Linked DNA regions of Homo sapiens: region 1 is linked to region 2. The links come from fine-mapping of genetic effects on gene expression. Tissue or cell type: whole blood. Region 2 holds a variant in brackets; the other region holds the start of a gene. All regions are shown on one strand. Distances are between the middles of the regions.

Region 1 (2,750 bases), 26 kb after region 2:
TTCAACTCACTGTTCCCCAGGGGGTTCTGCCCCGTGCCCAGTTCTAGAGCAAACAATTAACATCTCCCCCAAAAGTAGAGGGGTGAGTCCTCTCCAAATTCCTTTTAACTGGATCCTACCTGAGACACCTCCCCACACCCCGTTTTCCTCCTGATTAGTCAATGTCTAGCAAAACACCTGCCCCCAGGTGTCTCCAGCCTGGGACCTTACCCCCACCTCCCTTCTCACTAACTCACCCCAACTTCCTTCTCCCTGAACCCCCTTCCACCCCACACACTCACAAGCTCCCCATTTCCCCTGATAGCCCCCAGACCCTTTCTGGAACAAGCCTGACCCCCACCTGTATGCTCCAGCCACTCCCTGGCTCACCCCAGCTTTGTCCTTCTGCCCCTTTTCAGCTAACCCTAACCCCTGGGCCGTCAATCACACCCCCCCATCTTCACCAACCCCATTCCTCAGTCCTCTCCCCAGACAACCTCAACATCTAATTCCCTCTGCAGCCCCCTCTCCAATGAACCCCACTTCAAACTCCATCCCCAGCCCCCTCTCCAGCTCCCTGCAAACCTCAACCCCACTCCCAGCTCCCTCTTCAAAGAAGCTGCACCCTTGACTCAACCCCTGTTCCCCGCTCCAATTAACCTCAACCCCCAACACCATCCCCAGCGTCCTCCCCAGCTAACTCAGATTTCCAATTCCACTTCCAGCCCCCTCCCCAGCTAACCTCGACCTACAATTCCAGCCCCCTCCCCAGCTAGCTTGGACCTCCAATCCCACTCCAAGCCCCCTCGGCAGCTAACCTCGACCTGCGACTCTAGCCCCCTCCCCAGCAAACTCAAGACCTCCAATTCCACCACCAGCCCCTTCCTAGCTAACCTGGACCTGCAATTCCAGACCCCTCCCCAGCCAACTCAGACCTCCAATCCCGCTCCAAGCTCCCTCCCCAGCTAACCTCGACCTGCAACTCCAGTCCCCTCCCCAGATAACTCAGACCTCCAGTCTCACCCCCAGCCCCCTCCTCAGCTAACTCAGACCTCCAATCCCACCTCCAGCCCCCTCCCCAGCTAACCTGGACCTGCAACTCCAGCCTCCTCCCCAGCTGGCCCTGATTTCTAAGTGGAGTCCCAATGCCCAGACCCAATCCTTCCCCAGCTAACCTCGATCTGCACCCCCTGCCCCGTCCCCAGCTAACCTCGACCTGCAACTCCCGCCCCCTCCCCAGCTAGCCCTGAGCCCCAAGTGCAGTCCCAATCCCCAACCCCAGCCCCTCCCCAGCTAACTTCGACCCCCTAAGCGCAGCCCCGTCCCCAATTCCAACCCCAGCCTCCAGTTGCAGCCCGGGTCCCCAGACCCAGCCCCCCTCCTCAGCCGACTCCGACCCCCAACTCGGTCCGCAGCCGAATCCGAGCTGTCCCAGTCCCCTCTCCGGGACGCCGGCCGCGCCCTCACTTCCCCTGGCCCGGTTCGCGGGCGCCCTTACCTGCGCTCGGGCCCCGCGGCCGCCTCAGCCCCGCCGCGCAGCCGAACCCTCCGCCCCGGCCCGCGAGCGCTCGCTCCCCTCTGCGGGGGCGGGGCCGACACTCGGGGGGCGGGCCCTGGCGTCCCGGCAAGGCCAATCGCGAGCCCCGGCTGCGGGAGGCCGGAGCGGGGGCGGGGCGCGGGGCAGGCAGCGGGGTAGGCTGCGCCCAGGAGAGTGGGGCGGGGCTCCGGGCGCGGGCGGGGCCGGGGGCGGGGCGAAGAGCGGCTTTCCAGGGTGACTTCGTGACGTCAGGAAGGCGCGAGTAGTTTCGCGAGTTCGAATCCCGCGCTAGGTGAGCTGGTTCGAATCCTGCATGCCAGCTCCGGGGGCTCATTTGCTGGGGAAGAATGTCAGTGATCATAACTGCTGCACCGCTTTCTTGAAGACTTTATAGGCTCCCTCTCGTGGGACCCTCCGCATAAGGCCAGAAGGCGAGATTACTATCCACATTTTACAGAGGTGGAAACTGGGTCTCAGAAAGGTGAAACCTAAGGTCATTTGCCCAAGCCTGTCTCATCATTTCCAAGATTTCTCAGTTTCCTAACTCATGGCCCTGGATCCACAAATTCCTGAGCCCCAACACAGATGGAATGAACCAGAATCCTATAGGGAACTGGACCCTGAAATCTGTGTTTTGTTTAGTTTTCGTTTTGTTTTTGAGACAGGGTATCACTCAATTGCCGTGGCTGGACTGCAGTGGTGCAGTCATAGCTCACTGCAGCTTTGAAGTCCCAGGCTCAAGCAGTCCTTCCACCTCAGCCTTCCGGGTAGCTGGGGCCACAGGCACGCACCACCACATCCAGCTAATTTTTGTATTATTAGTAGAGACAGGGTTTCACCGTTTTGGCCAGGCTGGTCTCCAACTCCTGACCTCAGGTGATCCACCTTTCTTGGCCTCCCATAGTGCTGGGATTACAGGCGTGAGCCACCGTGCCTGGCCCTGGCTAATTTTTTTTTGTTAGAGATGGGGTCTTGCTATGTTGCCCAAACTGGTCTTGAACTCCTGGGCTCAAGTGATTCTCCTGCCTCTGCCTCCCAAAATGCTTGGATTACAGGCCTGGAATCTTCATTTTCCACAAGCTCCCTTGGGAATATTGGAAAACACTTTGTATGTCTCCAAAAGCAGTACACAGCCCTGGAAGGAAGATGGAGCCACCATATTCTGTGACCTCAGGGATTTCATCAGGCGCTGACACTGTGTGTCCTTGCCGCCCCACCTGAGCCCTGGGATTGG
Region 2 (2,750 bases):
ACCAAGCCCGGTGTGACCCACCAAAAATCTGCAACCACGAAGACCAGGAAATGCCAGCAGTGCCGAGCAGGAGAGGTCGCTTGACGGTAAAGAAGCAGGGAGCGTTATTTAGCAAACCAGGCTGGTTAAAGAGTAGAGAATATCAGATGTCGCGGCCCCTCTGCAGAGGACAGTTCTGAAGGACAGCGATGACCTAAATTGGCTCCTATGAGGGACTGCTGGGGGAAATATTTCCCCAGGATCCTATAAGATACAAAGAAAAACATATGAAAACAGAAAAGATATTCCCGACACTTGGGGGTCTCAATGGGGCGGGGGAGGTCTGAGGACATCTGTGGTTTTCACGATTGGGGGGAGCTCCTGGTATGGAGTGGGTGGAGGCCAGGGACACTGCTCAGCACCCTGCAGTGCCCAGGATGGCCCCTCCCCAGAGAATGATCCAGCCCCAATGTCCACAGCACCAGGGGGAAGAGACTCAAAGTTAATTATTTGGAAGAAAATATTGTTGAGCCAGATGCCTCAGAATGGGACCTTATTTGGAAACAGGGTTTCTGCAGATGGACTTATTATTAAGATGTGGTTGTGCTGGATTAAGATGAGCCCTAAATCCAATAACTGATGTCCTTATAAGACGAGGGAAATTTGGACACAGACCCACACAGGGAAGGGGGCCGTGTGAGGATGGAGGCAGAGACTGGAGCGATGTCACCAGCCCAGGGGCGCCAAGAACCGCCGGCCACTTGCCAGATGCTGGAAGAGGCAGGAAGGATCCTCCCCGGGAGCTTCTGGGCCGGGAACGGCCCTGCCCACACCTTCGTCTCAGACTTCTGGCTTCTAGAACTGCCAGAAAATCCATTTCTGTGGTTTTGAGCCATGCAGGTTGAAGTCATTTTCCATGGGCGCCCTCAAATATCCAAACTTCACCCCACAGAGACCCTCCCCTAGGCACCCACATCCTGGCATGTTCAGACACCCTCCTCGTGAACATGCACAGCCCCCAAGGCACCAGATAGACATTGATTTCCATCTAGAAGTGTCCGTCAAACCCTCAGCGATATATCTCTGCCGCCCAGGCTAGAGTGCAGTGGCACAGTCTCAGCTCACTGCAACCTCCACCGCCTGGCTCAAGCGATCCTCCCACCTCAGCCTCCCAAGGAACTGGGACCACAGGCGCGCACCATCATGCTTGCCTAATTTTTGTTTTCGCTTTCTGTAGAGATGGGGTTTCACCATGTTGCCCAAGCTGGTGTCAAACTCCCAGATTCAAGTGATCCTCCCGCCTCGGCCTCCCATAGTCCTGGGATTACAGGTGTGAGGCATCGCGCCCAGCCTCTTTGGTGGTTTTCAGGAACAGCTAGTTAGTTATTCTGCAGATGGAGGTTCAGGAGCTTGCACC[A/G]CTTCCTAGACCCGGCTGGAGGAGTTGGGTGTAATTTTCAGCCGGGCGGGTGCAAGACTCAAAGAGATGTGTGGCAGAGAGAAGCTGTTCAGACAGCTTCTGGGGTTGCCAGGAAGAAACAAGCCACTTGCTCCGATCTGCACATTCCCTCCCTGTCCAGGGCTGATTTCCACCCAGGCAGGACTCCCGATTCCCAGAGAATCTCAAAGCAAGGCATTCTCCTGGCCGTGATCCGGCTCTCAGCTCTAAAGGGACTCCATATCTTTACTGCAGACCCAAATCTGTGTCACCACAGAGGAAAAACGGCCGCTTAATTACACTTGCATATATGCTCGCAAGAATTCTTCCAGGGAGCAGGATCTGGGAACGTCCTCTGGAGACAGGGCCTTCCAGGAGACGCTGAGCTCGGTGTTGGAGCATGGAGGCTGAATCTAATCCATCAACAGGATGCCACAGGGGAGCAGAGAATTCCATTTTTTTTTTTTTGCTTCAATTCCTTTCTATACAACCGTGGTTCTCAACCAGGGGTCCTTCTGGTCCCCAGGGGATGCTAGGTGGTGTCTGGGGGCATTTGTGACTGTTATGACTCAGGGATGCTCCTGGCGTGGAGTGGGTGGAGGCCAGGGATGCTGATCAGAACCTTGCAGTGGCCAGGACAACCCCACCCCAGAGAACGACCCAGCCCTGAATGCCAAGGGGGAGAGACTCTGCCTTAATTATTTGGAAAAATATTGTATCTGCTCCCTGTTGACACCAGACACTAGAAAAAATTCCCGATGGGGTGGATGGCAGAAACCAAGGGGGGCCCCAGCTCCTGCGATTCTCCTCCTCTCTCCCTCCCCACTCAGGGTGTGGATTACAATGTGTGCAGCCTCCTGGAACCTCAGGAGGACAGAGGATCATGAGACACAGAGTTTCTTGGGGATCTGTGGAATCCCCTAACCCCCGGGGGTCTCACCTGGGGGTGATTCTGCCCCCCATGGGGCACTGGGCAATGTCTGGGGACATCTTTGGTTGTCACAACTCGGGGTGTCCCTGGCATAGAGTGGGTGGAGGCCAGGGACGCTGCTCAGCACCCTACAGTGCCCAGGATGGCCCCACCTCAGAGAACGATCTGGCCCCAAGGTCCACAGTGACAGAGAGTGATAACCGCTGCCATAATCTATAGGACTGACCATAGCCACATGCATATGGTCACACAAACATGAGTGTGACTGTCCCTCTGACTCAAAGGACAAAGCCAGTCCCAACCTTTCTAACCCTGCCACCTGTGCTGACCACCAGTGGCCTCTGTGTGGATGTTAGTTAGGGTTCAGCAGCCTTAGGAAAACAGAACACCAGGCATCCAGACCTT

What was found. PIP is the estimated chance that this variant, and not a neighbour inherited with it, causes the effect.
Region 1: it holds the start of GNG7, and the variant in region 2 is fine-mapped to the expression of GNG7 in whole blood (TOPMed, PIP 0.96).

What each region holds. Positions count from the first base shown.
Region 1 is chr19:2,701,169-2,703,918 of GRCh38, forward strand. It overlaps GNG7 (G protein subunit gamma 7), which reads right to left and starts at 1,526. Exons shown (of 5, transcript NM_052847.3): 1 at 1,478-1,526. RefSeq lists a silencer at 1,422-1,811.
Region 2 is chr19:2,675,385-2,678,134 of GRCh38, forward strand. All of the region lies in intron 1 of GNG7 (G protein subunit gamma 7), which reads right to left. Among named protein-coding and RNA genes, the nearest start is that of GNG7, 26 kb to the right of the region's middle. RefSeq lists a silencer at 2,698-2,750. The variant A/G (reference allele first, on the strand shown) is at 1,397.